4 separate regions of the Homo sapiens genome follow, and all the other regions are linked to region 1. Evidence: fine-mapped expression QTL. A gene starts in region 1. Each other region holds a variant in brackets. All regions are shown on one strand. Distances are from middle to middle.

Region 1 (7,952 bases):
AGGCTGAAGCACAATCGTTTTCCAAGATCTGGGACATGACAGCCATTCTGGGGCATTTGGAGTTCAATTTTAAAAATACAAAGGAGACACCCAGAAATGTACCTCCAGTCCAAGGACATAGACAGAATTTTTTATAAAGGCAGCAACTGCAAATTCCTCCACTGAAAAGGCTGTTCTATAACTCATAAGGGCCCAGGAGGAAGAGGCACACACGAGCCTCTCCCTTCACTGGCTCCCTCATGCTCACGTTCCAAATGCTTCTTTGGAACTTGTCAAAAGGAAATTCCAGGAAGTTATAGCACTGATCAGAGAAAAAAAATCAAAAGTAATCTCTCCCTAGGAAGCATGTGCTCATATCTGCAGCTACCTGAATAATTAGAATCACCAAATGTCAGACTAGAAGCAACCTTAGCATTAATTGTAGTTGCAGAAGCAAATTTCAAACATCAGAATGAGAAGATTCTACTAAAGGTCAAAAATGTATTCCCTTCAAACAGAGTCTTATACAGTCTTTTTTTCTAATCTGTATACCTTGTTTGCAATAGGTTCAATGCATGCTATTGCCCAAAGACAACACTGAATTTAAAACTAACCATCTAATGTCCAATAACCAAAGGTTGGTTTCACATTTTAATTATCTGCCCCTGTGAAGTTTCAGGCTGTCACTCCCTCCCCCTACTACTACTACTATACACACATCCAGACAGTGGGCTAAATATACCCGTACAGCCACCCCTCTGCAACCCGAAGAGACAGGAAGGTATATACAATGAAACCCCTTATATACAACTTCTGTTACTCGCATTCCAGACTGCTACAGCTTTGTGTCACTTCAGAAAGCAAATCCTTTTAAAAAACAGATGGTAAAAGAGAAAATGAGAAAGACTTCCCCCAAAAAAAGGATACTTCCATTCCACTATACTAATGCAGGCTCTTCGGATGGGGTTATTGAGTGATAAACAGAAAAGGGCGCGGGCAGGTCGGCTGTTGGACGAGTTACCCTGTTTTTTGCTCTTGGCGTATTGCTGACGTTTTCTTTGGGAGAGAGATCCTACAGGTGGGGGTGCAGAGGTGCTCATAGTTTGGGCAGCCTTGGCCTGTCTAGCAGCATCGATTGCAGCTTGCCAAGACAGGACAGTTTGCTTGGAGCTATTCGGCTGAGAAGTTGGTCCTTCACCAGAAAGAGGAAGTCTGGTGCCTCTTGCATAGTTTGCCTCTGGGGAGAAGGAGAAAAACAAAGATTTTTTTTTTTAAATGAGGATCCAGTGGGTAGGAGAAAAAAATCAAAGGTTGTCTCCCATCAATAACAGGGGAATCATTCACTCCTATGTTTCCATTTTGAATCTCATGTGCTATTTTTCACAAGCTGGGCTTTAGTCAGCTGGAGAGTCAAGAAAAGTCCACGAGCTCTGGTCTCAGTGTCAATCACACAGGATCACCGCTGCATCACACCCAGTGGGGTTAGTACTCCTTCACATCATGTCTTCACAAAGGGTCTTTTAGTGCATTTCTTCTGACAAAACTGAGGTCATTCCCACATTTACTCCGCATCTCTGATTTGTAAAACCCATCTATCTCTAATGAGTAACAGATACATACAACAGCTTTTCTCTAACATAACTACCACCATCACCAAGGGGAAAAAAAAAGGCAGTACCAATAATTCAATAGTCTTAATCATTTTCAGAGTGTTACTCCAACATCTTTCCACAGCCACAAATGCATTTTTTTCAGTACCGAAAAAAAATCTTCCATAGGCACCCAGGCAATACCAAAAACCCCATAACAAATATCTAGATTATGCACTGACACTTCCTGCAAATGAAAATTCATGATGCTTGGGACTCATTTCCTCCACAGGCTTCCGAAAACAGAAAACATCTTTAGGGCTTTTTTGCATTTTAAATTGCAGCAGCATCAGCCAAGCCAGCATCCAGAGAGACAGACAAGGCAGTCAGCCTGCACCCCTACACCTAGGATAGACTGACTGGATTATGCCAGGGGCCTCCAGGCCTAAGAGGGAATTATCTCCGTGTAGGTTGGTATCCAGGTGCACACAAGGCAGAAACTCAAGGAGGCTCCCTATGCGAAGCCCCCGCCAGCTTTGGGTCAGGCCATCTCCCAGGCAGATCTCCCAGGCACCTGCCGCCTTCCGCCACAGTCTCCTCACTGAAGCAGAAGTGAGAGAGGTGACAGCAAGGTAGAGAGATGGGCGTTTGCAAAGCCAATTATTGCTAAGTAAAGAGTCAAAGCAAGCACGGGTCTGAAAGCCTGAGAAGAGGGCAAAGCGGGCGAGCGGCGGGCAATCGGAGCGGGGACGAGTCGAGTCATGTCAAGCTTCTCCCTAGGGGAGCGCTCACCCGGAAAGGCTTCCAGCCGACAGGGGTTGGGGGGCACTGGCGGTCTCCAAAGGGGAGGGCTGGCCAGGAGCTGCTCCATCCTCCCTCGACCCAGCCCCGGCCGGCGTGGAAGCTGCACGTGGTGCCCGGGCCAGAGCTGGGGAGGGGAGCCCCACAGCGGCAGCGGCTCCCCGGGCATTGCTAGGTTACCGACGTGTGCACAGCCGGCGACGGGAGCGGGAACGCACGCTCCACCCGAACCCCTTTCCCCGATACCGAGGCCGGGCCTCCCCCGCGAGGGGATGGGTGTGCTTCACCCACCGGCGCGGAGGGCGAAACCGGGCAATCCTAGAATTTTCCGGATGCCACCAGGGACCTTCTTCCTAGTCAACGAGGGGGCGGGGGAGGAGTGGAAGGCGAGAAGAGGCTGGCAAGGGGGCTCCGGCTGAAGACTTGCGGCCCTCCTGCCATCGCTCGGGGGCGTTGAAGGAAAGTTGAGCCCGAGGACACTGAACCCGAATCACCCCGACTCGCCGCCCCTCCGGCTGCACCGCGCTCCACACACTCCACGGCCGCCCCCACCCCACAAATGCAGAATTAACTCTGACATTCAGGGCCTGGAGGGGAGCGCGGAGTGGCTGTCACGCATGTCCCCTCTCTGTGTAGACGACACCGAGCTGGCAGCACCCTCTCCAACCCCCTCAACCCATCCAGCGCCGCGGGGAAGGGGGAGGGGGCTGGAGGACCATGACAGGATCGGATTTGGCAGCGGGTGCCCGGGCTCTGGCTGCTCACCGTTCGCGTGGTCCGCTTGCTGCTGCCGTTGATGCTGCATTTTTTTCATCATCATCATCATCATCATCCACGAACATTTATTGAGCGACTACTGTGTGCAGGGCACTGTGCTGGGCGTTGAGGCGGGGGCGGAATGGGGAAGGGGATCACCAAGAGGTAGGAGCCGCGGTCCCTGCCCTTATTCTCGCTTCAGCAGGGGGGTGGGGAGGGACGGGGACAAATAACAGAAAATAAGGATAATTGATTTAAAAAAAAAACCGCTCGCCACCCAAGCTCTCTCTTTTTCAAAAATGGAGCAAAATAAACTTTTTAAAAAAATAAAATCCAATGTATATATTATCTTAATAATATATACATGTAATTTTTTGCTGCAAAGGAGAACTGGCTTGTCCCCTCCTCTAGCGGAGAGACGCCGCGGTGATGCCGGCCCGGCCGCCGGGGCCGCTCGGCGCTCCCCCCATGCCCGCCCGTCTGCCCGCCCGCCGCGGTGCCCGGTGCCCGCCGCCGCCGCCCGCGCCGCCGCTGGCTCGGGACCGCGGGCAGCCGGAGCTCACATCCGGGGACGGAGGCGCTCGCCCGCCCGCTCGCTCCGCGCCCGCCGCGCCGCGCCGCACGCCGGCTTCGCCCTGGCGACGCTGCGCGCCCGCCGCCGTCCCCCGCCCTCCGCCCGCCCCGAGCCGCCCACGGCCCGCGCCGCGCCGCGCCCCGGCGGGTCTGCAGCCCGGCGCGCGGTTCTGCCCGGCACCACTTGCGCGCTCGGGGTGGCCGTCGCGTGGGACTCGGGGTGCCGCCACCCCAGCCTGGCCCGGCTGACCTGCGGGCTCCAAAGGGTTAAGCGCGCTCCAGCGGCGGGCTGCCCGGTTAACCCCCTCCGCGCCGCACGGTGCGCTCTCCCCCCGGGACCCGGAGGAGGCAGGCGGCGCCAGTGTCTCCCGCGGCGCTGGGGTGCGGATGAACCGCTCCTCCCCGCGCATTTCTGGGCTGGGGGACAGCTCGGGCTCCCGCGCCGGCCCCGACTCCGCGCCGGCCTCCTCTGCGCACACCTGGAGGAGGCCCCGCCCCCTGGGAGCTCAGGTGCTAGCGGGCGGTAGCTGCTGCGGTCTCCGAGCTCATCCTCGTCAAGGCTCGGCCGGGCTCCCTGGCTGCTCCGGAGCGGGGCAGGCGCCCCCTGCTTTTCTCCGGCCCTTTCTGGAATCGGGGGGGTTGGGGTAGCCCGGGTCTGTAGAGAGCACTCACTACCCCAGGTAACTGCCTGCAGCTGGAACCGCGAATCCAGGGCGCCCCCCATCTTCTCCCCTGCCCTGCGCCTGGCCTGGCGTCGCGGAAGGCAACGGGGATGGGGGGCAATATCTCCCCCCACCCCACCCCGCCCCCACGTGTGTTTGGAGGCAGGTACAGGGAAGTCAAAGCCAAGGTCTTTCAAACCGCTCGTGTTGTTCAAGGAAATAGACGGTGCTGCTGAAACTGTTGCCTCCAGTCTGGGAGCTGAAGGGAGTAGTTTATTTTTTGATACCTTCGCTGGCTTGGATTTAGGGTGGGGGAGATTTGCAAACGGCAGCTCCTGTCTAAAGGGGAAAATACTTTATCTAGTGGATGACTGATATTTTTCATTTAGCTTTGTGCTGCCTGTTAGGAGAAGGGCGTCTGCTTTGTTACTTCACAGGATTCGATTTATTTGCTTTTGTTCCTATCTGCATGTTCCTACGGCGTTTTAGAACGTTTCAGAACAGTGACTTTAAAGCGAAAATAAAGTAAAAGCTCAGCGTGAATTAAGAAAAATAAGTGTTTATGGGAAGGTGCTCCTTACCCAAAGAGAACACACTAGTCATCCTCAATTGTTGGGGGGCACCTGGGCAGAGAGACTGGGGACCAGACAGAAGACTCTCCAGAGGCCTTCCTGAGGGGGTGTCTGGTCCGTGAGGATGAAAACAACCAGGCTCTTGTCCTTTTTTGTGCTTTGTTTTTGGAGACTGGAGAGGCGAGAAATCGCCCTACGGTCTAGTAACAATATAAAGCTGGCCTGGGCCACCTCTCCTATGGCTGCTTCTGATCCAAAATCTGAAGGGAATAGAAGACGGTTCCCTCCAAAGAAACTAGCCCATCCAAGGAGCATGTATGAAATTCACAAGTACACATGTCACTTTCAGAACTCCTGGTCTAAAGCCTTGCCTCTTGAGGCCTTTTCTACAAAATTCCCTGAGCAAGTTTGTTTTATGATACCTTTGCTGGCTCAGATTTGGAATGGGGGAGATTTGCAAACAGCAGCTCCTGTCTAGAGGGAAAAATACTGTATCTAGTGGATGACTGAGCCGAACCATATTTGCTCATTGTTCAGTTCAGTGCAGCCAGCATTCATAAGGCACCGGTTAAGAATAAGGGTCTGGTCTAGATGTCAGGACAAATCTATGGCACAGTTCCTTCCTCAAGGACAACCTAATGACAGAAGAAAAGTTTGTATACTTTTTTTTTTTTTGAGACGGAGTCTTGCTCACTCTGTTGTCCAGGCTGGAATGCAGTGATGCAGTTTCAGCTCACTGTAACCTCTGCCTGTTGAGTTCAAGAGAGATTCTCCTGCCTCAGCCTCCTGAATAGGTGGGACTACAGGCGCGCGCCACCACCCTCAGGTAATTTTTGTATTTTTAGTAGAGACGGGGTTTCACCGTGTTGGCCAGGCTGGTCTCAAACTCCTGACCTCAGGTGATACACCTGCCTCGGCCTCCCAAAGTGCTGGGATTACAGCCGTGAGCCACCGCGCGCCCGGCCGTGTATACTTCTTTCATACCATGCAAACATAGCAGCTATAACAAGTATGAAAAAGCGCTATACAAGCATCAGACAGATTAATTGTAACTGAGGGAACTGAGATGTTTTCACAGAAGAGAGGGCATTTGAACTGATTCTTAAAAACTGACCGGGAGAAAGAGGGATGAATAGGTGGCATACAGGGAATTCTAGGGCAGTGAAGCTATTCTTTATGATACTGCCATGATGGACGTAGGACATTATGCGTTTGTCAAAAACCCGTTGGACTGTACACCACAAAGCATAAACCCTAATGCAAACTATAGACTTTTGTTAATAGTAGTACCACAATATTGGTTCATCAATTATAACACTGGGGTGTACCAGTGTTATAACTGTGTATATAGTGTAGCTCACTAATGCAAGATGTTAATAGGAGAAACTGTTGGGGGAGAGAATATATGGGAATTCTGTCCTTGCTGCAAAATTTTTCTGTAAACCTAAAACTGCTCTTAAAAAAAATAAAGTCTATTAAAAACAGGTGACTACTTTTACAGGGCATAAATGATGTATGAGGAATGAGCTTTGGGGGTAAGAGCAAAGGCACAGGGGAGACTGAAGTGCAAGGTGGGTGTGTTTAAAAATGAGCAGGAGCACAGTGTGGCTGAGGCAAAGACCCCCTGGGCTAGAGGAGGAGGAGGCTGGAAAGGCCAACCCAAATCTGTGGAGGAAGGCTGGCTGGCTAAGAAGACCAGATTCAATTTCTTGGCAGTGAGAGCCAGTGAAGTTGTTTTAGCTCAAAAGTGACATGATTAAATTGTGGTTTCGGTCTCCAGGTTTTGTGCGTTAGATCTTAACAAGTTTATGGTATTGCAGGAGGGTTTGGGGTTTTTTTTTTAAATAATTATTTTTAGAAACAGGGTCTCACTATGTTGCCCAGATTGGAGTGCAGTGGTGTGATCATAGTTCACTGTAAGCTGCAAGCCCTGGCTTCAAGCAGTTCTGCCTCAGCCTCCCAGCGTGCTGGGATTACGGGCATGAGCCACTGCTCAGCCTTGAATTGGAGTTTTTGACATTCCATCCCAGTTTCTGAATGAGTCTCATCTTGGCGATGTCTCCAGCAAGCATTTTTTTTTTTTGAGGGCCTTGATTCAGCACAGCTCTAGATGCGTTGGCCCATTGGGTAATTTAAATATTTATATTCCCATGATAATGCAAACTACTGAATAAATAAATAATAAGATCTTTTAAAGGCTTCCTGTGTGCCAGGTTCTAGGGTAGGCACTTTATATGTACTAACTCATTTAATTCTCGTAACAAGCCTACGAGGTACTATAAAACCCTCATTTTGGCCAGGCTCAGTGGCTCATGCCTATAATCCCAGCACTTTGGAAGGCCAAGGCGGGCTTGAGTCCATGAATTTGAGACCAGCCTGGCCAACATGGTGAAACCCCATCTCTACTAAAATTACAAAAATTAGCTGGGGATGGTGGCGTGCGCCTTAAGTCCCAGCTACGTGGGTGGCTGAGGCAGAAGAATCACTTCAACCTGGGAGGTGGAGGTTGCAGTGAGCAGAGATTGTGCCACTGCACTCCAGCTTGGGCAACGGAGCAAAACTCTAAAAAAAAAAAAAAACAAAACTCATTTTACAGACAACAAAACCAAGACACTGAGGAGTTAAGTAGCTCGCCCAAAACCACACACAATTACTTAGTAGCTGAGCCAACAAGACATGAGGAAAGGCTAAAACAAAAGATTTCAGCTCTAAATCAGCTACATGTGCTACAACCCAATTATGTTGCTAACACACTATTGTGGGGTCTTAATCTCCATGACCTTATTTATAAAGCACTCCCACTTGAACGCACTGAGCTGGCATGCCAGACATGATTACCTGCGTGCACTGCATTTCAAAAAACCTTGCTGATGGCCCAGTCCAGAACCTCACCATCTCACACCCCAGGTCATGCACAAGATGCCCATTCTCCATTTTTCCTCCCACAAATAATCCATCTTGTTCAAAACACACCATGTCACTTCCCTGACCAAAAAATGTTTTCTTCCTCCTTCCTTCCA
Region 2 (7,952 bases), 150 kb before region 1:
GCATGCCGCCTCTCCCGGCTGAACTTGTGACAGGTCATCATGCACTTTCCCAGGAAACCTAGGCAGAGCCTCTGACCTTTCCTCTAGTATCCATCCCAGCAGCCATGCCCATCTGACTGCCACAGACCTCACAGGTGCTGCTCACGGGCTAAATGACTCGTAGAACCTTTCCAGTTCCAACCCATGCAACTCCATGAGCTGTGGAAAACATACCAATCAGCAAGTCTAAAAACTTTGACTCCTTCCTCTTTTACAAATGTTTTCTTTATACAGCTTCAGTTTCAATAGAAACATGGACCAACAGAGATGTGTGTAATTAACTTTGCAAGAGGCATTCCTCGGCATGAAGCTACTTAAATAACAAAGTATCATCAGCAACTGTAACTTTCCAATATGAACTATAGAGTCCTATACTAATATCAGTGGGACCCGAAAAGTTACCAATACCTTAGAGAAATGGAGGTCATGAAATTCACTCATTAAAATGCCTAGGGCAAGAGGTCAAAATAAAATAGGCTCAGGAAACACGTGAACACCACTTCTAAATGACAGGCACTGTACCAGGAGCCAGAAAAATGTCCCCACTATGGTACCTGTCATTTAGTCTGTTGGTGTGGGGGGGAGGTGTGTGGAGGGGGAAGTTTTGAATGTACACACAGAGAATTTCTCAAGAGTCACAAAAGTAGTAACTGACAAGAGCGATTCTCTATCTTCAGCCCTCCCATCAGGCCACCCCTGCCTTTTCACAACGGATTCCAGGGGGAAAAAAAGCACTTTGCTATATATTATCACTATTATATATTTTTATGCAATAGGCAAATGTGTATTTGAAAATAAATTTTATGTTTCTGAAGAGAACACTTTATATTCAGAAACATTTTTAAAAACACAAATTTTAGGATGATTCCCATAAGCCTGACCCTTTGAGGAACCGTCACCTATTAAATGTTTGCTTGCAGTATCCCCAACACCCTTGTGCATTTAAATGGAAGCCTTGCCTGTGCTGCCCCTGGGCTCCGGCTGTCTGCTGCCAGAATCGCTTCCCCTCTGTCACCGGCCGTGCCAGGCAGAACATCCCTTTGTCGTGCCACAGGTATCCTCCCTCTTGACCACCATGCAGCCATGGCCATGCATCCCAGTCTTTGCCCCCATTCTCCACTCTTCACTGGTCATATAACAGGGCTTCCTTCCAAGGACAGGGCTGTTGTGGTTCCTGTCATTTCTAAACACTTGCCCTCCAAAGCTCCCTTTGCTCCTCAGAACACCATTATAACAGTCTAGTGAACGAATTGTGTGTGTGTGTGTGTGTGTGTGTGTGTGTGTTTTGAGAGTTAGCCAGCATCAGTGTGTTTATAATTTAATTTAGAAAGCCTAGCTCATCTCCAACCTCTATACTCATGCCCCCTCTAGACTTCAGACCAGTCCTGTTCTTAGCCAGGCTCATCCCATGCCCCCATGCCTTCTTCCCCCATGCCCTTCATACAGCTACATGAAATGCCACGCTCAGAGCTACGAGGATGCCCTTCCTTGCTTACTGTCCAGATTCCCCGTTGCCCCATTCCCTGCCATATCCCCCAGAGGAGTGCTTGCTCGGGAGGCATGCGAGGCGTGGCTGCTGGAGGAACGATCACACACTCAGGCCACTGCGGTATTCTGAGGAGCAGGGACCAGCATTGCCACTGGATAGAGGGAAAGATACAGGAAGGCCTCAATGAAGCCATAACATTAACTCTGAAAGCTCAAAGAAAAAGGAACTCTGTTACTTCAACCAGAGGCAAAAATCCCTGAAAATGCCAACCCACAGTGCTCACATCAGACCCTGACCACCAAAGGCAGATTGTCAATATGTTTGAGACTTAAGAGTTCTAAGGGAACCAGAGAAGCTAAAAACAGCACACTGATTTTACAATTCATCCCTTTTTATCCTTGCTGCTTTATTTACTAGGCCAGAGAGAAAAAAAAAAGCTTTTGCTGCCATCAATATTCATAGCAGTTACATACCTACGTCAAGACAGCACACTATACTTCAGAGCAGAAAAACAAGGCAGAGAACAGACAGTACACCTCCCAAACAAAGCTTGTTTTTCCTCTCTGACTTTTATTTAGAAGAAATTTTGCCACAATAACACAAGGGCCATTAGTATAAATGAACTGTTTAACGTTCTTTTTCCTTCTCCTTTGCCCTCTCCCTGCTTTTTAAAGAATTTGGTTTCTCTTTCCAAAATCCTTAGTGAATTATTTGATGGGATTCTTCATAAGAAATACAAACTTCCTTTAATGCAATTCTTTATTACAGAGATTCTACCATGATGCCAACTGAACAATCACAGCCTGGAGAGCAGGCAGACCAGTTTGTCTAGAAGCCAATGTCATCCCGGTCCTCAATCCTGCCACTAAAAAGGAATCCTATGAAACAGGTATCCCTCCACATTCAACAAATGAAGTATTATTTTTAAATCTTGCAAAACGTCGTTCAGGAGAAGTGGGATAATTATTCGCCTTACAAAAGGATTGTTCATTTGAGAAAAGAATGTTGAATTAACAATTTGAAAAGGAAGCCAACAAGAAAGTCAGGTTCCTAACAGGCAAGGTGGGACTGTGGGCCCAGCCAAAACAGCTAGGTGAGAGGTGACACATAGAGGACACTGAGGTCTGTGGCCACGACTGATGGAAGCACAGAGGAAGAAGCACTGTCAAGGATGAAAGACTGGGATGGCAGAAGAAGGGGCCAGCAGGAACCCTCTAGAACCATACATGAAATGAGGCGTCCCTGGTATAAAAGGCCTGAGCAGGAGCTGTACCTTAACAGCCCTTCCCCAGGTACAGGGAAAGAGTAAATGATTCTTGCATCTCATCCCCCTCTGTGTGCCAGGCAGAGTCACACCTGTGGCACTCAGTCACCCACCAGCAGGGATTTCTTCTCCCTGGCAGGAGATCCTGAGTAGGCAGGGCCAGTCAAACCTTCCTTTAGAAAACAACGTCCAGAAACTACCCTGTATATGGACGGATGTCCCCCCACTCCCTCCCCCTACCCCGCCCACGAGAACTCAAGCCACTAGAGAAACAAAGGCTGAAATCTAATTCTAAAACCTGATGTGTCTTCTTTAAACAGTGAAATTTCACCAACAGGAGAGGCTCTAAATCAGTAGTCTCTAAACTAGTTAATAATCTCCAAACCAGTTAATGCTGTACAGAATCTTGAGAAACAGAAACTGTCAACTAGCAGGAGGTGGGAGATGCCAAAATCCTTCATTAGACTTGGTACTTTCCTTTCCTATTTTAAGAATCCTCTTATTAGTGCTGTGGCATGAATACTTGTCCATCTGTCTATCCATCTATCCCCGAGCACCTGCATCCTTCTCAGCAAAGCCAGAACCCTGTCCTCACAGAGCTCCCAAGCTGCTGTCAAAAGGTGAACAGAGGCTTGATGCAGCCAGGTAAGAGTCACTTCTCTGTTTTGCTCTTCCACCCATGTGCCCCAAGGCTTTGGGAAGGCTTTCTGGCTTATACTCTGCCAGAAGTCCCCCTCTCCCACTGACACCTTCCATTCCTTCTGTGCCCTGCAGTCCTGGATTCTCTATTGAAAGGGGCCCTCTCTTTGTGTCTTTAACTGTAGCATCAGACATATGTAAGGCACTCATAGGTGCTACTAGAAAGCAGAGAAGAAAAAAACCGAAAGGAATAAAGCTATAGATCTAGACATGTAGAGGCTATTACAGCATGAGGTTTTATGATCCTAGCATATGTATTTAAAAAACAAAAACAAAAAACAGGATACATATGTATGTATCTAAGTTACCATAAACCCTTTTTAGAACAAGCCTGAAATAAAGAGTCAAACTGCTAGGACAACAGCTGATCTCAATATCTCACCTGGCCTCCCCTGCTATCCCAACCTGCAGCTTCTTGGTTAAGGATCTCATCCTTTCATCCTTGCCTAGATTCCTCTTCCAACTTTCCCACCTCTCCTCTGTCAGAGTGCTTCACTCCAAGTCATGGGCCAACCTGCTCCCTCCCACACATGCCAGCCACCTTCCCACCTCCATGTCTTTGCC[G/A]TCCCTGCTTTATCCACCAAGGGTGCCTGCCCCATGGACATGAACTTCCCTCTTTAGATGAATAAGCATAGAGCTCTGTGATACAGGGCCAAAAACGCACCCAGCGGGGTTGAATGCAAGGAACACAGGGCTTGGAGCCATAGATCTGATTTCTGCTAGTCCCAACTCAGCCACTGATTCATGCTGTGGCCCTGGGCCACAGTGGAACCATTCCACATCCTGTTCCCTTCTTTCTAAAACAGTCTCCCCAACCCTCTTTCTCATCAGACTACACTCTGCTTGCCCTTCAAGGCTCAGCTTAAATGACACTTTCTCAGCAAAACCTTTACTGACCTCCCAGACAAAATTAGAGCCTGCTGTTACATGCTGTCAAAGCCCATTATACTTTTCCACAGCCGTAATTCACAATAGAAATTTAAATTTTAAAAAATTACCTCTTTAACAGAAAGCCAAGAAATAAATCCAGGCATTTATGGTCAACTGATCTTTGACAGAGGTGCCAAGAATACAGAGTGGGGAAAGGACAGTCTCTTCAATAAGGGGTACGGTAAAACTGGACATCCACATGCAGAGGAATGAAATCAGACCCTTCTCTCACCCCATATACAAAAATCAGCTCAAAATGGATCAAAGACTTAAACATTAAGACCTAAAACAGTGAAAGTACTACAGAAAAACAGAGTAAAAGCTTCTTGACATTAGACAGGGCAAAGATTTTTGAGATATGAGTCTGTAAGCACAGGCAACATAAGCCAAAATAAACATATGGGATGGCATCTAACTAAAACGCTTACACACAACAAAGGGAAAACCACCAGAATAAAGAGACAACCTATGAAATGGGAGAAAATATTTTTAAACCATTCATCTGATAAAGGGTTAATATCAAAAATAGATAAGGAACTCAAACAACTCAATAGCAAGAAAACAATCTGACTTTAAAATGGGCAAAGGACCTGAACGGACATTTCTCAAAAGAAGACATACAAATAGCCAAAAGATACATGAAAAAGTGCTCAACATCACTAATCATCAAGGAAATATAAATTAAAACCACAATGAGCCATCACCTCACATTCATTGGAATGGCTATTGTCAAAAAGACAAGTGATAAGTGTTGGCAAAGATATGGAGAAGAGGGAAGCTTTGTACACTGTTGATAGGAGTGTAAATTAGTACTGCCACTATGGAAAACAGTTACAGAGGGTCCTCAAAAAATTAAGAGTGGAACTACCATATAATGCAGTGATCCCACTTCTGGGAATGTATATACAAAGGAAATGAAATCAGTATGTCAAAGAAATGTCTGCCACGCCCATGTTCTTCATAACATTATTCACAATAGCTAAGACATGGAATTAACCTCCATGTTCATCAATGGATGAATGGGTAAAGAAAATGTGGTATAGATACACAATGAAATACTATTTAGCCTTTAAAAAGAAGGAAATCCTGTCATTTGCAATAACATGGGTGAACCTAGAGGACACTATGCTAAGCTAAATAAGCCAGGCACAGAAAGGCAAATACTGCATGATCTCACTTATATGAGGAGTCTAAAAACACTGAACGCACAGAAGCAGAGAGAAGAATGATGATTACCAGAGGTGGGGGTCAGGAAGATTGGGGAGATGTTGATCAACATATAAAAAATTTCAAAGTATACAAAAGCTAGAAAGAGTAAGTTCAGGAGATCTATTGTACAACATAGTGGCTATAGTTACAACAATGTATTGCATACTTGAAAATTGCTAAGACTGCATTTTAAATTTTCTCACCACAAAAAAATAAGCATGTGAGGTAATAGATATGTTAATTAGTTTAATTTAGCCATTCCGCAGTGTATGCATATATCAAAACATCATGTTGTACACCCTAATTATGTAGCTATTTGTCAATTTTTAAAAATTGCCTCTTTAATATTTGTCTCCCCTAATAAATTATCATTCCTTTAAAGCCAGAGATCATTTCTATTTCATGCATCATTGCATTCCCAAGGCCTGTCACAAAAATAGATATTCCGCATTTATAAATGAATAAATAAATGGGCAAAATGAGAGGTTTTGACCAACTATTATTAAATGTCCCTTCCCACTAAGAAGTTCTATGATACCAGCGCCCCCTGGTTTTGCTCTGTTCCAGGAAAACATCCATGAGTGCATGTCAGGGAAAGGCTCAGCACAGCCACCTGCTCCCTCATCATGGCCCTCCCTGCTCCAGGCAGGGTGTTCCATCCAGAAGAGGAGCCTGCACGAAGGCAAGCTGTTCAGGGCGAAGAGCAGTCCACATGGCTGAAGCACAAGGTATGAGGACAGGTGGGAAGGGAAGGGACAGGCTGCAGGGACACAGTGGAGGGCAGACACAAAGGGCCCCAGGTGCCACGGTACGGGGTTTGGTCTTCGTTTCTCATGTGTGAAATGAACAGACTAAATCAGATGATCTCTTCCAGTTGGAAAACAACAATTGTCTATGACCTGGTGAGCAAAGTCTCCAAGGACAGGCTTCACAGGGAGGCTCTGTGAGGGCGCAGAGACCCCAGGGAAGAGCTGACCAAGCAAGAACAGCAAGAACCGAGAGCAGCGGCTGCTTTTTCAAGTGGCTGGGTCGATTGAGGCCATCGTGCACATTCAGGCTGGGCTTGCTGAGACACCCTCCCACTCACGACCCTACACGTTTCAGGAGGTGACCCAGGGGAGCCGCAGCGCTATCACACAGCTTCTACAAGCCGATTCAACCTCTAGTAAAATTTTGGTGGGTAAACCACAGGAGGCTGGTGGGCAGGCAGGCGTCGGCTCAGAGATGCTTGGCTGTAAATAGAGGTCATTTTTTCCCCTGCAGGTATTAATGAAGTATGCACTTAGAGGAACAACAATGGGTAATTTAACACCACATTTACATGAAGAAACTGGCTACAGTAGTCTGTTTGCCCTCATCTTTCTTCACCTTCGGTTTAAAAGTACACATTTTATGTGACATTTGTGTCCCCCAAGTCTAATGCTAGTCTCGACAGCTGTGTTGCCCCGTTTGAGACATTTACCCCTCCTGATTCCCAGTTCTTTCATCCATAAAACAGGGACAATCATTCTTGCTTTGCCTTGCCCACCAGTGTTATGGTAAAAGCCAGATTAAGTAACAAGTTGGATAGAGCTGTGCAAACTATAAAGCACCTCACAATGGAAGGCTCGCCCTGACTAAGGATAGGTGAGACAGCTCCCCAGCCTGTGGGAAGTGTGAATACACTTCTCCCTGTGGATGCAGACTCTCTGAAGAGGTTTCTCCTGAGATCCCACGACAGTTCAGTGACCCCACAATCACCCAGGTGGGGCAAGGCCCTGGCCCAAGATGCTGTCTAGAATGTGCCCAGGGATGACAAATGGAGGTGGCCAGCAGGGTGACCTGGTGGACCACTCTACGGAGCCCAGCTTCAAGGACATGCGGTCTGTGGGAAGAGGGCAGCAGCATGCCTGGGGCGGCAGAGGCTGGCAGGGAGCTCTCCTCCTCACCGGCAGAGCAAAGGCAGCTTCTGCTTTGCTGCCAAGACTACAACAGTTAGCCTGGATGGGGCAGTAATGATGGCCTTGCCACCCAGCAAAACTCCAAGGGTAACAGCACCCTGACCTTCCCCCAGGAACTGCTCCATTCCTGCTCTCATCCCAGGGGCAATAAGAGTTGGCATGCAGCCAAGGTTATTGGTTCGGGGATAGGCATAAGCTCCAACCCACACCAACCGGGTCCGAAGAGAGCAAGTCTGGGAGCTTTCCCTGGGGTAACTAGGTAAGAAGTTCTTTTGTTGGCTGGATTCAGCCCTGAGAGACCACAAGCCTAGAGTTGCCAGGGGGACATAGAGATGAAGAGCTAACACCCACCAAGGGAAGCCAAGCCAAAAAATGAAGAGAA
Region 3 (7,952 bases), 210 kb before region 1:
AGATTTTAATGGTCCTAGCAAAACTCCATTGTTAACTCAGAAGCAGCTGCATATGTCTAAAAAAATCACTTTGAGATTTGGCAGGGTTTCTTAAGAAACTTGAAGCTCAGCAAAAAGTTAAATAAATTATCCTTGAAAATTTACCAAATGCTCAGGAACTCACTTCAAAGGGAATTTTGTCCATTCAGTTAATTGTGTAACACCAGCTTTCTAATAGCAAATTTATGAAATTGACATTTTAAATATTCTATGAATGCACAAAGCTGGAGCTACCTGTCACCAGTCACCAGACAGCTCAGTTAGAGGCCTGATTGCCTCTCCTCTTCTTTCAAGTGAATGCCTGGAACAGTGTGATATTCAGCCACTGATAGCATCCTGGACTCAGGAGTTCTGAACCCTAGCTTCACATTAGAATCCCCAGGGAACCTTAATGAAAAAGAGCCACCCCTGGCTCCCACCCCAAGATTAATCAAGAGTCTTAGAGGGTGGAGTATGGCATCAAGAAGCATCCAAGCTCCCCAGGTGATTATAACGTACAGCCAGTGTTGGGCATCGCAGACGCATGCAGTGACATTTAGCAGATCAGAGAGAAAAGATAATGTGAGCGCATCTCCAAGTACTTGATTTGACATCTGTTCCCTGACAGCAAGCACCGCCAAACTAGAAATGGACTTCAAGAGCCTGAAAGCTGTGCTGCCCTATCTCGAAAGTGACCTAGTTAACAGATTTGTTTTCCATCAATACTTCAGAACTTTATAGTTTCTGAACAGAAAAGCACAGGGCAATGGTCCTAAGAGGGAGGCCCCACCCTGAGGCTGGTTAGCGGTCTAGGAGAACCTTCAAAAATATTATGTTTAGGAAAGTCAAATACTGCATATTCTCACTGATAAGCAGAAGCTAAATAATGTGTACACATGGACATAGGGTGTGGATGGAATAATAGGCATTGGAGACACAGAAGGGTGGGAGGGTGGAAGAGGCATGAGGGATGAGAAATTACTTACTGGGTATAATGTACACTTTTCGGGTGATGGTTACACTAAAAGCCCAGACTTCACCGCTATGTAATATGTCCATGTCACAGAACGGTATTTGTACCCCCTAAATTTATACCCCTAAAATTCTGTTGAGGTCAACTTTTACTGGTGTCTGATGAAAACAGCAGCAGCACATACTACAACTATGACTACTCCTAGCAGTCACAGAACGTTCAATTGTCACAACAGCCCCATGGGGAGATATATCTTTATCCCCTTCTTGCAGACAAGGAAAGTGGGGTCCAGAGAGGTTGAGTAATTTGCCTAATACTAAAGTCCAAATTCCAAGTCACAAAACTCCATTGCAGCCACATCCGGAGAAGGGGCATCAAGATGCCCTCCAGCCCAAGCCTTTGCCTCCTGTGAGCTCACAGACATCTGCTGTTATTAATGACTTCCTACACCCACTTCTGCTCATCTAGGCTGAGGCTCGGCTATCAGGAAGCATTTCTTCTCACACTGTCACTTCAATCCTCAAGGTCTGGGAGGAAACTGCTCAACTCACATCCAGGACCCAGCTGAAAAGGGCTCTCAGTTGAATTAGCATCCTTAGCCATTATGGACAAAGTCAGGAGCCCGGGCCCTGCGCCATCCTCCTCTCAAGAGGTAACAGAGGAGCAGGGTTGGAGTGGAAGGCACGTGGGGTGATCTCACACCCCCAGGGAGGATGCAGACACCGTAACACTGGCAACACCCACATTTCTACTGCCTGCTAATCAGATGCACAGAGACAGCCCCAGACCTGGCATGTGCATGTGGTGAATCCAGGACTGTTTATTTGGTGAGGAGGACCATGTGGGCCTCACTGAAACCCTCTCCTTGTGTGGTTTTCTGGCTGTGACAGGAAGAAAATGGCTGGCAGCCACAGGAGGCCCCAGGGAAACCTCAACAGTGCTGTCTCCTCCAGAGGGTCTGGGCTGCTGAGGTCTGTGATCAGAGAGGTTCTCTCCTCAGAGGAGGAGGAGACTTGGTGCTCTCAAGTCAGCTAAATCCCATCATGGCCTCCACAGCCAAGATTTCTGTCTTTATTTAAAACCCTCATCAGCAAGGCTCTGGAAATCTGATGACTCGGGAAGCACTGTGAGCCTCACTCCACAGGAAACCCCAGCACCTGGCAAAACGAGCTCCATAAAGAACAAGGGCGCACCACAGAAATATTTGCTATTCTGGATCAAACGTTAAGCTAGTTAATCATTTTGAGTCACACATCACGGTGCATAGCAGAAACAATACTGCTGATGTTCCCAAGACACATTGCAGCTTTATGGGCTTGGGAGCCCCAGTGAGAGTGAATTCTGAAGATCTACAAGGCTTTTAAACAGGTTTTGTTTCTTTCCTAGATTATATTACTGAGCAATGCACTTAAGGGCCCTGAATATTTGTCACTTCGCACACCTTGTTTGTGCCATTTCCCCAGCTTGAAAAAGCCCCCACCCCCAACCTCTGCCGCCCAGGGCTGCTCCTCCCACGGAGCCTTCCTCACATCGCCCCAGCCTGCCCACTCCCACCAGCCAGAATCATCGCGCCCTCCTGGGCTCACACAGCAGAGTGCTGGGCCTTAACAATGGGATCAGCTTCTCACACTAAGCCACTCCTTCTCCATCTTCCCCTCATGGCAAGTTCTCTGAAAGGCAGAGTCATTGATTTCTGTCATCATCAGGTTTTTACAGTGATAGGTCATAGGAAATGCTGGGCTGAGATAAAATGGTTAACCCTCAAGATATCACCTTAAATCCAATGAAAACCCTTAATCCTCAAATCATAGGCCCTATAAACAACTCTACCACGACTAATGTTAGCAACACTAGAACACGAAACCTTGTCTACTTCTAGAGGAGGAGAAATAAACAGAGGAAAGGCCACTGGCCTGTAAGAAGGCCTCACTCAGCTCCCTGGGGGACACAGCTAAACTAGCAAAGAAAGACACTCTGCTGAGAAAAAGGGGCCATACCTCCTCTCGTTTACAAATAACATGTTGGGTTTAGGGGAGATGGGGCAGGTCAGCATCTGAGTTACAGTTTGCAAGTGAAGGGGAAAAGAGCGGTGCAGGCATCTCCAAGCTGCACCTACATGGCCTGTTGCCATACTGCAGGTGCAGAAGCTCCACGAAAGCCATGGGGTTCACGTTGGCTCAACTGCCAAGGGGAGAGCTGTGCAGAGGACAGGCAGACACTCTTACATCTGATCACTTCATAGGCACATCGCTGAGTCTGAGACTCACATGAATGTCTATTTATAAACTCTGAACTTGCATTCAGCAAACAGTTAGCTCTAGAAACCCTCCCTCAGTCTTCTGATCCTCAGGTGCTAAAGTCCTGGCCCCTTCCTGAGCCTGGCAAGAAGCAGGGAGGGAGAGAAGAGAGGCCTGACCCTGCCCACTCCCAGTCAGCACACTGGTTTGCACCAGCCAGGGCATCTGAGATCACGGAACACACTCCCTCCCCATGGAGGCACAGAGCCCAGGCTTGAAGAAAGGTAAGGGCCCTCTCAGTCAAGAAGCCTCTCCACCAGGGGTCTCTCAGCCCCCACTTACACACTCCACAACCTCCAGAAGAGGCACAATTGCACCTCACCCACCCTTCCTATGGCAGCTCACCCCGACCTTCATACCCTCTGTGCTCCAGCTGAAGGGCCCACTGCTTCCTCCCTGAAACCTGGCCTTTGTCCACCTCCACGCCTCCCTCACGCTAGTCCCCTGGGTCAGGGTGCTTCTTCTGACACTGAATGGTCACACCTGCAATCCATCCATCCTTCAGGGCCCAGGCCAAATGCTCCCTCCAGCCCTGTCCTCGATCCCTCGTCGGCGGTGCCTGCCCTCTATGTGTGCCCTGCAGCTCTGCTCCCCAGGGCTGCATTTAGTGTGACAG[G/T]CCTGTCTCTCCCTAGGAGGCAGCACTCCACATCCTCTCCAGCTCTGGGTTTCCCCTGTACCCAGCAACAGGCCTTGCTGAGAGCAAAACATCCAAGGCGCTCTGCTCAAGCAGGGACTTGCTCGGCCATCTTCTACAACGTAGGGCCGGCCTCGGGTCCCCAGGCCTCTCAATGGACATGTGCACTTGAAGTACGTTCTTGGTCCTTCCTATCCAACTCTTCTAGATTTGAAGCAAGTCACAGACATCTCAGTCAAATGCATTGCTGGATTCCAGTTTCCACTCTGACCCGAGGCACAAAGGGCCCCAGAGAGAATAAGAGCGCATCTGTGGGAAAAGTATGCAGTGAAAGAGACACCGTGGTTGACAATGGCAATTAATGTCAGTGATGGACTGAGTTCTCAGGCCTTGCCTCCTGCAGAAGGTGCTCTAGGGTGCTTAGTGTCACAGTGTGGGGTGTCGATGGGTGACAGCAAAGCAGCTGTCACTGACTCACGTGCCCCTTAACACCTGCCTAGAATGGTGAGCCGGTTTCCTCCCAGCCCCTGATGGGCTAAGCATATGGCTTCATATGAATAGCACATGTAGGAGCCATGTCAGGTGGCCTAAGAGTAAGAGTCAAGAGGAACCCTGCACTTCAAATTCTTGTCCAATAACACTGTTCACTCTGAGGTGAGGGAAACCACAGCTTCTTCTCCTGTGGTACAAGAATATGTGTCTCATCACCCCTGTGCCCGCACAGAAATGCGCTTACTGAATTTCCCAGGCCAACAGTGGGTCCGTTTGACCTTCCTTGGCTATAAAGCCACCTTACCAAATACAACTCTAAACCCCAAACCTCAGGCAGAAATCCAGAGTCAGCACCAATGCACCTGTTCTCTCCGTGATGTGTGCAGGCAGAAGGGACCAGATGGCTGGGAGGAGGCTGTCCCACTCACAGCCTGGGTCAGAGTCGAGGAAGGCCTACTGCTAGGCGTCTGAACCGCACACTGGGTCTGTCTAGCCAGGGGCAGGAAAGGCGCTACATACTATTTCGTTTGCCTTCCTCTCCTCCTTCTTCCTCATTCTCCGGATCGATGTCCTCAGCTTGGGTGATCCAATCCAAGTAGCCCTTTAGATCCTCCTCCAGCTGCTGCTTCTCCCGGAGCTTCTGGAAATCTCCCCGTGCTTTTGCCTTCTCTCTTTCCTTTGAGAATTCTCTGAAGGAGGCAAAGAGGACAAGCACATATCAGGACATCCTTGGGGACCTGCATCCTGAGCCACTGCCCTACTGCACAACAGTCTTGTGGGCAGGACACACAGCACTGAGTATAGTCACATGAGCACAGCAATGGAGCCACACACTTGGACAGGACAGAAGACAGTGTCTTCCAAAGCAAGACTATGGGGGTCAGAGTCGCAGAGCCCACACCAACACACATGCATCATTTCTTAGAAAATGAACTCCCCTCGATGACAGCGATCTCAAGGGGCCTAGGCCCAAAACACCATGTGCTGTCATGGCAGGCCTCTGACACCCCCCAACAAGGGGCCTGAACTCAGAGACGCCCCACTTTCCCCAGAGCCTCCTCAAAGAGGAGGGACCCAAATGGGCCAAGCTGTGGTCAAAGAGTACCAAGTTTAGAACTTCTTCAATGCTTTTGGACAAACTTTGCATTAATATTGTGTGCTACCCCTTTTGTCCAAACCAAGAGCTCTGAGCAGGCAGCAGTCCTTGCTGGTGCCCACACTAGGCTCCTCTACCCATCACCTGCAGGTTCGGGCCAGAGCAGTGCATGGAGTCAGGGCAGTCCCCACCCCCTCCACAACCCAGTTCTCCCTTCCCAGATGGGAACTCGAGCACTGATGAAGCATTACTGTTTTTCTTAACCCCTGCTACTTGTCATGGTCTTCCCCAAAAGTCTTCCCTGCAGGAGGGGAAGAGGCATATGATTTTCTGCCCATTTATAGGAACACCTGCCCTGGAAAAGATCTGGCAGACAGGTAAATGTTCCCAATTGTGGGGTGTTTATGCTACTTTCCACCATGTGTGCAAGCCTCTGACTATGCATATATACAAAACCCCACATACTCAGGCAAGCCTGAGAGTCAGGTGGACGATTACCCAATTTTTATATATGAGGAACCATCTGCATCTCCAACCGTGAGTTGTTATAGGAGCCAAGATATGTGAGTTAGAGACTTAGTAAAAAGCTGCCAAGGAAGCAGGTGAGGTTACAGCAATGCAGTTTCTGCACACAGACCTTGAGATTCTGACACAGGTTACTTCTGTCTGCCTTCTTGCCTTTGTTCCGAGTCAAAGCCAGCATGTCTCTTTCAGGGTCCTACCTCGATAAGCCAACCCAACCCAACTCAACCCAACCCAACCCACGAATGGGGAAGTGACCTGCTTTCATAAAGCTAACCCCAGCCAGGCACGGTGGCTCACGCCTGTAATCCCAGCACTTTGGGAAGCCAAGGTGGGTGGATCATGAGGTCAGGAGTTTGAGACCAGCCTGGTCAACATGGTGAAACCCCATCTCTACTAAAATAAAAAGAATTAGCTGGGCATGGTGGTGCAGTCCCAGTTACTCAGGAGGCTGAGGCAAGAGAATTGCTTGAACCTGGGAGGCAGAGGTTGCAGTGAGCCAAGTTCATGCCACTGCATTCCAGCCTGGGCAACAGAGCAAGACGCTGTCTCCAAAATAATAATAATAATAATAACAACAACAACAAAACTAACCCCATATTCACACCCGTCTCTTAACTCTAGGCTGTCGAGGGGCTGAACAGATGCTTGCACACCCAGTGACACTAATACTTCAGATAAGAAACTGGAATCCTCACCAAGTGCCACCCTCTGCCCACAATTAGAAAGAATCCCACTCAGACAGAGGTTGCGGCGGGCTGAGATTGCACCATTGCACTCCAGCCTGGGCAACGGAGCAAGACTCCATCTCAAAAAAAATAAAAATAAAAATAAAAAAGAAAGAAAGAAAGGAAAAAAAAAAGAAAAGAAAAAGAAAGGATCCCTCTCATAGCTTCTAAATCACCCCACTTTCCAGACTCCCTGGAACCTATCCTTGGTCCTGTTAGGGCTGTCAGTCTCCACTCCACCCCCTGTGAATAAGGAAGGAGGCCAGGCTTTGTGGATCTAGAGAGTGAGCAGGAGCCGATCTGAGCCCAGACACGTGCTCTGACCTCCCAGCCCAAAGAACACCTGCTGTCTCAAAGAAGTAAGGACTCCAGTGTCTCGCCATTCACATGTACCACACCCTGAGAATGGTTTGGGGTTTCTAGGCCTCCGGGGTTTCCTGACACATGGGAAATACATAACTCAGCTCTAGGTAAATTCACCAAATGATTCTCTGAACTCTGAAAAAATCACAACTCAATCCAGAATCACATCCCTGAGCAACAGTAAGAGGGCTTGGCATGTCATGTATCTGCAGGAAAATGAATTATATAATCTGTTTTCTTAAATACATCTCAAAGAAAAGTGGACCTTCAGTTCTATTATTCACCAGAAAAGTATCCTAGTACAAATCTGTTTGCATGTTTTGATTCCGAACTTAGAATACTAAATTCAGATGGTTACATACAAACAAGGTATTCTTACTTTGGGTCCATATCATATATGGGTTCTTGGGAAAAAAATTATGAAGATAGTAAAAGAGTTACCCTGAGAAGCTTAAGGACATTCATTTTATAATGCATAATTACATACATTATATACATTTTATAATGTATTATAATTATATAATTATATTTTATTTTTAAATTATATAATTATATACATTTTATAATGTATAATTACATACATTATAAAATGAACGTCCTTAAGCTTCTCAGGGTAACTCTTTTACTATCTTCCTAATTTTCTTTTGTAATATTTTATGCCTTTTTAACATTACAAATATAAAAATCCCATTTCTAACAAGCTGCATCACTGTTGTACATTTTCCACTGCTGGGACACAGGTAAGCAGGCATAAGTAAAACTCTACTCTGACTAAAATTCCTAGGAGTAAAAAACCCTGCCAAGTCCTGGTTTATGGCCCACTCACAAT
Region 4 (7,952 bases), 140 kb after region 1:
TTAACTATGTAACACTGTGGTTTTACCTCAAAGTGGGAGGATACAATGAAGATAAATAATTCATTCCTCTGGGTGTTTCTGTGCAGTTTTGATCCATAGGAGTTCAACAGCTTATCAGTATGCCCTGGTCATCGAACAATCAAATTGCAGATCCAAGGGAACTAAAACTTATTAAATGAGGCCGGGCGCAGTAGTCATGCCTGTAATCCCAGCACTTTGGGAGGCCGAGGTGGGTGGATCACCTGAGGTCAGGAGTTCAAGACCAGCCTGGCCAAAATGGTGAAACCCTGTCTCTACTAAAAATATAAAAACTAGCCAGACATGATGGTGGGTGCCTGTAATCCCACCTACTCGGGAGGCTGAGGCAGGAGAATTGCTTGAACCCAGGAGACGGAGGTTGCAGTGAGCCAACACGGTGCCACTGCACTCCAGCCTCAGCAACAGAGTGAGACTCCATCTCCAAAAAAAAAAAAAAAAAAAAAAGAAAAACAACTTATTAAATGAATTAAATGCATATGTAAAAATCATTATGAACCAGGCATGGTGGCACACACCTGTATTTCTAGCTACTTGGGAGTCTGAGGCAGGAGGATCACTTGAGCCCAGGAGTTGGAGGCTGCAGTGCACTATGATCACACCTGCGAATCGCCACTGCACTCCAGCCTGGGCAACATAGCAAGACCCCCATCTCTAAAAAGAATTATTATTATTATTACTACGTTAATTTTGCCAGATAAATAAATATTTGTGAATGAATAATAGTAATATAAGATTAGAGGCACCCTAGAACTGAAACTGGGAAGATACAGAAAGCATCAGGAACAGAAAGAGTCTATAGGTTCTGTTGGTACTTCTGCAGAAACAACAAAGAAGCTTGCAGTGTTCAGAATTGAAAAAGTGGACAGATGCCTTTAATCAAACTCTTCTTATTTTGTTGGTCTAAGAAATATTTGTATTTTCGTATGCCTGAGGGGAAAAGAAAGGCAGGATTAAAGGAACTCTGAGCATATTTGTGGAACTCTCATGGAAAAGTGCATTTTAAATGACAACCTCCCATTTTGGCTTAGCAGATTACTTCATGATGCAATTGCAAAATCAATTGCCTAATGGTATAGACAAAAACATTTTTGGTCTTTAGCCACTTTGTGACTCTGCAAATTTGTGCCTCTAACTGATTGTAAATGCAGAGCTATGCCTGGAGTTCTTTTAAAATCTTGACTTATTGTCAAAGCACTAAGCAGTGTGTTCTGGTAAATCATGTGCTTAATTTTAATTCTATTTCTGAAGGCTGAAGTTTTATTGCTGACTTTCTAAACAATCTGGAGCGGTGTAATTAACTGAGATAGGCTTCACTGAGGTAACAAAGAGACCCCAAAGTTCATCATCTCTTAAAGTCAACAGGCTATGTTTCTCATTCACATAACAGTCTGAGAAGGATAGTCTGGTCATCAGGCAACACTCTTCAGTATGGTGATTCAAGGTCCAAGCTCTTTCCAATCCTGGCTCTGCCATTCCTTATGGTCTCACCATTGCGGCACCCAGTCAACAGAAAAGGAATAAGAAAGTGTGGAGAGACAACATGCTCCTTCAAACCTGGGACTGGAGATGGCACACAGCTTTTCCACTAATATTCTGCTGACCAGAATTGGGTCATAGAGCCATGCCTAATGCAAAGGAGCTTGGGAAATGAAGCCTAGCTGTGTGCCCAATGCAATGGGGAAGGATCAAAGGATTGTTGTGAACCCAAAAGAGCTCTGCCACAGTCAAGTCAGCTAATCTCCTCTTACCTCTGAACTCCTTCATCTGCAAATGGGCAACAATTTATGTACATCCAATATCTATTTTGAGAGCTTGTGAATAGGTATACCTAGGAAGTACTTTGAGCTCCATGGATAAGCAGTGTATCCGTTGACTATATTGCTATTGTTTATGCCACTGCTGTGCTATTGCTATTTGAAACATTACACTGAGTTAAGTAACAGTAAAAAACATAATACTTTCTACCTAAGAACATCATAAGAACACTATGTTACAAAGTCTTGCCTGGTAATAAAGGGATGATCTAAAGGCTGTCTAGTCCTACCTTCCTATATTCTAGGTGCATTACTCCAAATGGAACAGCTATTTCTTCCTTTCTGATTGAAAGCATTTCTGCTCCAGAACTGACAGACTAAACTAGTTCACATTTCAGAAGTATAATTCTAGAGAACATCAAGCACCTTTAAAAATATAAAGTATCATTTTAAAATACAAAGTTCTGAGACCTTTCTGAGAAACCGAAAGAAAGCATTACTGTCCCAAATATCTGGTAAGGACCTGGAATGAATTTTACAGTAAGTCCACAATCTTTTGGATCAATCATGAAAAATAAATATCAGTGGTGAAACAGCAGCACAAGGATAACAAGTTTCACTCACGTGTAGCCAGTGTAATTTAAGAGCCTGCCAGGCAGCATGGTAGCAAGATACGTGATCTACCTGGAAGCCAAGGCTAGAAGATGCTAATCTTAACTCAGCAGATGAATCATTATATGACCCTGAGAAAATTAGTTAGCTTTGGTTTCCTGGCCCAAAAAGGCGAACAGGAATAAGCGGATACTTCCAGAATAAATTTTAAAAATCAGAGAGAGAGGCCGTGCACGGTGGCTCACGCCTGTAATCCCAAAACTTTGGGAAGCTGAGGTGGGAGGATCACGAGGTCAGGCAATCGAGACCATCCTGGCTAATACAGTGAAACCCCGTCTCTACTAAAAATACAAAAAAATTCCCAGGCGTGGTGGCGGGCACCTGTAGTCCCAGCTACTTGGGAGGCTGAGGCAGGAGAATGGCATGAACCAGGGAGGCGGAGGTTGCAGTGAGCTGAGATAGGGCCACTGCACTCCAGCCTGGGTGACAGAGCAAGACTATGTCTCAAAAAAAAAAAAAAAAAAAATCAGAGAGAGGGAGAGAGGAAAGGGAAAGAGTGGGGAGGGGGAGAGGTAAAGGAGGGCAGGGAAGAGGGGAAATGCGGGGAGAGAAGAAGAGAATGGAAATGGAGAAACTTGTAAGATTGAAAAGGTGCTGAAGATTGTTCTGGGCTACACTAAAAACAATATGTTTGCTTCAGGAAGCATAAAGCCTCAGAATGAGAATATATTAATACAAGTAAATCAGGCATTATTATTTAATTAGCACTCATGAAAAACAAATGGTTTGTTAGAGGTGGAGTTGAAATCACCATCCCTTCTGTAAGATTTATGCAACAGAAGAAGAGAGAGCATCCTAACATTCCAATTAATTCAAGAGATACGTATGTTAGGCCTTGATTTTGCCAGGTACTGGGAATGTAATGGTCAAAGAGACAGACATGATTCCTACCTTCATCAAATGAATGAGACAGACCACACATAAATAACTACAACTTGCAGATAAGTGCTATGAAGAAAGTGAAGGAAATGAGTCATGAGGATATCTAAGAAATAACAG[A/G]AAGAAGAATGTTTCAGAAAAGGGAAACAGCAAGTACAAAGGACCTGAGATAAGACTGCTTTGGCATTGTTAAGCAAAGTGTATGGGAGGCCATTATTTTGGACTAGCCTCCTGCACTAGGCCCCAGCAGACCAGACAAAACCATAATGGAGTCACTTGTGCTAAGTGACATAATCCAACTGAACTCGGAAAAGGGCCCATTTTCCAAAAACAGGAGATTTACAGCAACCAATCAGAAGGGCCCTAGTTTACCTGAGCTGGCATAAGGAAGTTTCTCTGTTCTAACACTATAAGGAAATTAACTTTGAAGTGACCAATCTGCTTTTTGTTTCCTGTTTCAGCTTTCTTCAGCCCTTCTCTGCCTGTAAAGCCAACCTCCTCTGATCAGCTCATTGGAATACTCATTCTATTTTATATACCCAATTCAAGAATGACAAATGAAAGCCAATTTGATCTTTAAACTAAATTTGTTGTAATTTTTTTCTTTTGTAATATACAGAACAGCAAGGTGGCCAGTGGGCTAGTGTGAAATAATTAAGAGGACAATTCATAGAAAATGGAAATGGAAAGACAGCAGGAGGGCAGACCAAACAGTATCTCCTGGACCCGTTAAAGGCTTTGGATTTTACACTGGAGAAATGGAAAGCCTGCGACTAACTGAAAAAGTTACACAGCTGGTAGGTTAGGAACTAAAGGACTGATTTCCCGACTTGAATTCCAGTGCCCTTTCCCTTAGATCCCACGATGTAAAGTGGCAAGTTTGATTTTTTACCACAAAGCCACTCCAACTGGGGGAGAGGAGGGATTGGATTGATTGGGTTTTAGGTTTTCATTTTTTAAAATTATTTTTAATTTTTTAAAAAATAGGCCAAGTCGGACATGGTGGCTCACGCCTGTAATCCCAGCACTTTGGGAGGCCAAGGCAGGCAGATCACCTGAGGTCAGGAGTTCGAGACCAGCCTGACCAACATAGAGAAACCCCGTCTCCACTAAAAATACAAAATTAGCTAGGCATGGTGGTGCATGCCTGTAATCCCAGCTACTCGGGAGGCTGAGGCAGGAGAATCACTTGAACCTGGGAGGCAGAGGTTGCTGTGAGCTGAGATCATGCCATTGCACTCCAGCCTGGGCAACAAGAGTGAAACTCCATCTCAAAAAAAAAAAAAAAAAAAAAAAATAGGCCAGGCATGGTGGTATGCACCTGTACCCCCAGCTACTCAGGAGGCTGAGGTGGGAGGAATGCTTGAGCCCAGAAGTTTGAGGCCAGCCTGGGAAATATAGCAAGACCCAATTTCACACACACACAAGTTGACATACATGGAACACACCTCAAAAGTTGAAACTGGCTGGGCGCGGTGGCTCACGCCTGTAATCCCAACACTTTGGGAGGCCGAGGCGCGCAGAGCACGAGGTCAGGAGATCGAGACCATCCTGTCTAACATGGTGAAACCCCGTCTCTTCTAAAAATACAAAAAATTAGCCAGGCGTGGTGGCGGGCGCCTGTAGTCCCAGCTACTCAGGAGGCTGAGGCAGGAGAATGGCGTGAACCCGGGAGGCGGAGCTTGCAGTGAGTGGAGATCATGCCACTACACTCCAGCCTGGGCGACACAGCGAGACTCCGTCTCAAAAAAAAAAAAAAGTTGAAACCACTGTTGCAAAGTTTCTGACACTTTGAAAAGTCTAGCATGGCTGACCCTATCTTCCTTCTGGCCTCACAGGCTGGCTCTTCTTGCTCATTTCTGGGCACAGACCAAGATAACAATGAGAGGAATTTAGTTTATAGTTTAACTTGGAAGCAGACATGATAATAATCTCTCCCTAAAACCAACCCCCTCCTTGATGAGGGACTGAAACCGCCTTTGTAAAACTAACTAAAGGCCATGAGATTAGGATTAGGGGAGGGGCCTGAATTCTGCTAAGATGAAGGCATAGTTTCTATAATCCCTTACTGCTCAGGAGTCATGTGGCCAGAGGTCACAAAATTTGTAACTTCCTCCATTGCTCCTATAAATAACATCACTATCGTAGACCCTAAGATTGGTCTTTTGAGATATTTTTTCAGACTTTGCATTCTGGCAACTGAGTGACCCCACCTGGACCCTGACTCATGACTTAACTAGTCCTGTGGCCCCCACTCAGAGGCAGACTCAGTGCATTAGGACAGTTTTCCACACCCCTATGATTTCATCACCAACCAATCAGTAGCACGCATTCCCTAGCCCACTACCCACCAAATTATCCATAAAAACCCTAACCTCTGAGTTCTCAGGAAGACTAATTTGAATAATAACTCTAATCCTTCCATTTGGCTAGCTCTGCATTTATAAAATTCTTTCTCAGCTGGGTGTGGTGGCTCATGCCTGTAATCCCAACACTTTGGGAGGCCCAGGCGGGTGGATCACGAGGTCAGGAGTTTGAGACCAGCCTGGCCAATATGGTGAAACCCCATCTCTACTAAAAATACAAAAATTAGTTGGGTGTGGTGGCACATGCCTGTAGTCCCAGCTACCTGGGACGCTGAGGCAAAAGAATTGCCTGAACCCGGGAGACAGAGGTTACAGTGAGCTGAGATCATGCCACTGCACTCCAGCCTGGGCAACAGAGCGAGACTCCATCTCCAAAAAAAAAAAAAACAACTCTTTCTCTACTGTAATACCATGGTCTCAGTAAATTGGTTTTGTCTGTGCAGCAGGCAGGAAGAACACGTCGGGCGATTACAAAGTGACTGTAGGTTATTGTGTCTAGAATAGAGCCTCCTTCCCAACTCTGTCACTCAGCTTCCTCCCCTCCTTCCTAGTAGTGTTTTGTGTGGCCTGGAAGTAGTTGGGTTTCAAGAGGACATTCAATCACCAATATTTATTGAGAGTCTACTCTATGCTAGGAGCTGGGCTAGCTAGGTACTGGGGACCTAATAAGACTAAGATGCCATCTCTGCCCTCTCAGAGTCTATTGTCTAAAGACACAAGAAAGGTCTTAAGGTTTGACTCACAAATATAAGGCAAAATTAGGCCTCACGATAAATGAAGATGAATTTCAAGTCCAAAATATTCATATTATCTTTAATATGTCCTAAGAGCTATATGGGGCATCAGAGCATGTTTAGAGGCAGGCAAATATGTATTTCGGAGTGATTTTCTTTTTTTGTTTGTTTGTTTGTTTGTTTTGAGACAGAGTCTCACTGTCGCCCAGGCTGGAGTGTAGTGGCACGATCTCAGCTTGCTGCAAGCTCCACCTCCCGGGTTCACGCCATTCTCCTGCCTTAGCCTCCCGAGTAGCTGGGACTACAAGCGCCCGCCACCATGCCTGGCTAATTTTTTGTATTTTTAGTAGAGACGGGGTTTCACTGTGTTAGCCAGGATGGTCTCAATCTCCTGACTTTGTGATCCGCGCACCTCAGCCTCCCAAAGTTCTGGGATTATAGGCATGAGCCACCGCACCCGGCCCAGAGTAATTTTCTATTCCAAATATGAAAATTCCCTAAAATAACTTGGTGTTCTTTAATAGGCTAGCCCTGCTCAATCAAAAATAGTAAATTAAAATGAAATGTCTTCGATTATTTTAGGAAATCTATGTAAGAAAAAAAACTAAGTTTCAGGTGTGCCTTTTGAATTTTGTACCAGATGAATGTATGTTTTTTAAACATTAAAGTGCAGATTTTTAAAAATTAGGGTGCGGATTTTTAAAACAGATTGAAGGTAAGTAGAGAGGAATAGGGCTCTTACCTCCAGCCACTGGAAGGAAGAAAGGCATCTGGGGCGTGTAGGAAAGGATCCCAGGGTAGAAGATAGGAGTCCCTAGATTCTAATACTGGATCCTCTGTGACTAGTGTGGAATTTTGAGCCAGTGAATTCTCCCCACAGGTCTCAATTAAATCATCTGTCAAATGAGGGTGACGACATCTTCTCTACCTCACCACTGAGCTGTGAAATGAACCAGAGGCCTTACTTTTTTCCCCTGAACTCCCAGTCATCCCTAGAACACCAATTTGAACATCATCTCCTTCAGGAAGCCCTCCTAGACTTTCCCAGCCAGTTAAGTTAGCGGCTCTGTCCTCTGGATTTCAAAGAGAAATGTCTCTAGCATCATCCCTGTTTCCTTGCACTGTCCTACTTTCTTTTTTCCCTCAGAGCCAGGAATGTCTTAAACAGAGTGAGATGCTCCCAAGGGGCCACCAGCTCACAATTAGGAGTTCAATAAATACTGACTTAAGAGTGAATGAATGATATCTGTGTCTTTGTCCACATTTGTACATGTTTACATGATTCTGCAAAGAATCTAAATTTCTCTTTACATTAACAAACAGGGGGGCTGGGCACGGTGGCTCAAGCCTGTAATCTCAGCATTTTTGTTAACCAGGACAGCCCTGACAAAATAACTGGGAAAGTTCCTTTTTCTTATTGTTTTTCTTTGGTCCCTTTATCTATAGACACTGCTGCTTAAAGAAACCAGATGGCGCCAGAGCTTCTTGACCCCTGACCAGATGCCAGA

Evidence for each region.
Region 2: its variant is fine-mapped to the expression of CACNA1D in whole blood (TOPMed, PIP above 0.99).
Region 3: its variant is fine-mapped to the expression of CACNA1D in whole blood (TOPMed, PIP above 0.99).
Region 4: its variant is fine-mapped to the expression of CACNA1D in whole blood (TOPMed, PIP 0.99).

Annotation. Positions count from the first base shown.
Region 1 is chr3:53,490,416-53,498,367 of GRCh38, reverse strand. It overlaps CACNA1D (calcium voltage-gated channel subunit alpha1 D), which reads right to left and starts at 3,757. Exons shown (of 48, transcript NM_001128840.3): 1 at 3,135-3,757; 2 at 907-1,216. The coding sequence starts at 3,201. RefSeq lists enhancers at 1,908-2,692, 2,693-3,478, 3,809-4,308.
Region 2 is chr3:53,642,201-53,650,152 of GRCh38, reverse strand. The region is part of intron 3 of CACNA1D (calcium voltage-gated channel subunit alpha1 D); the gene reads right to left. It overlaps LOC124906242 (a long non-coding RNA gene), which reads left to right and starts at 3,322. Exons shown (of 3, transcript XR_007095913.1): 1 at 3,322-3,437; 2 at 6,198-6,358; 3 at 6,505-7,952. The variant G/A (reference allele first, on the strand shown) is at 4,056.
Region 3 is chr3:53,699,792-53,707,743 of GRCh38, reverse strand. It overlaps CACNA1D (calcium voltage-gated channel subunit alpha1 D), which reads right to left. Exons shown (of 48, transcript NM_001128840.3): 9 at 4,934-5,103. Among named protein-coding and RNA genes, the nearest start is that of CHDH, 140 kb to the left of the region's middle. The variant G/T (reference allele first, on the strand shown) is at 3,905.
Region 4 is chr3:53,350,818-53,358,769 of GRCh38, reverse strand. LOC105377094 (a long non-coding RNA gene) reads left to right here. Exons shown (of 3, transcript XR_940847.3): 3 at 7,891-7,952. Among named protein-coding and RNA genes, the nearest start is that of DCP1A, 7.3 kb to the right of the region's middle. RefSeq lists a silencer at 5,234-5,528. The variant A/G (reference allele first, on the strand shown) is at 3,465.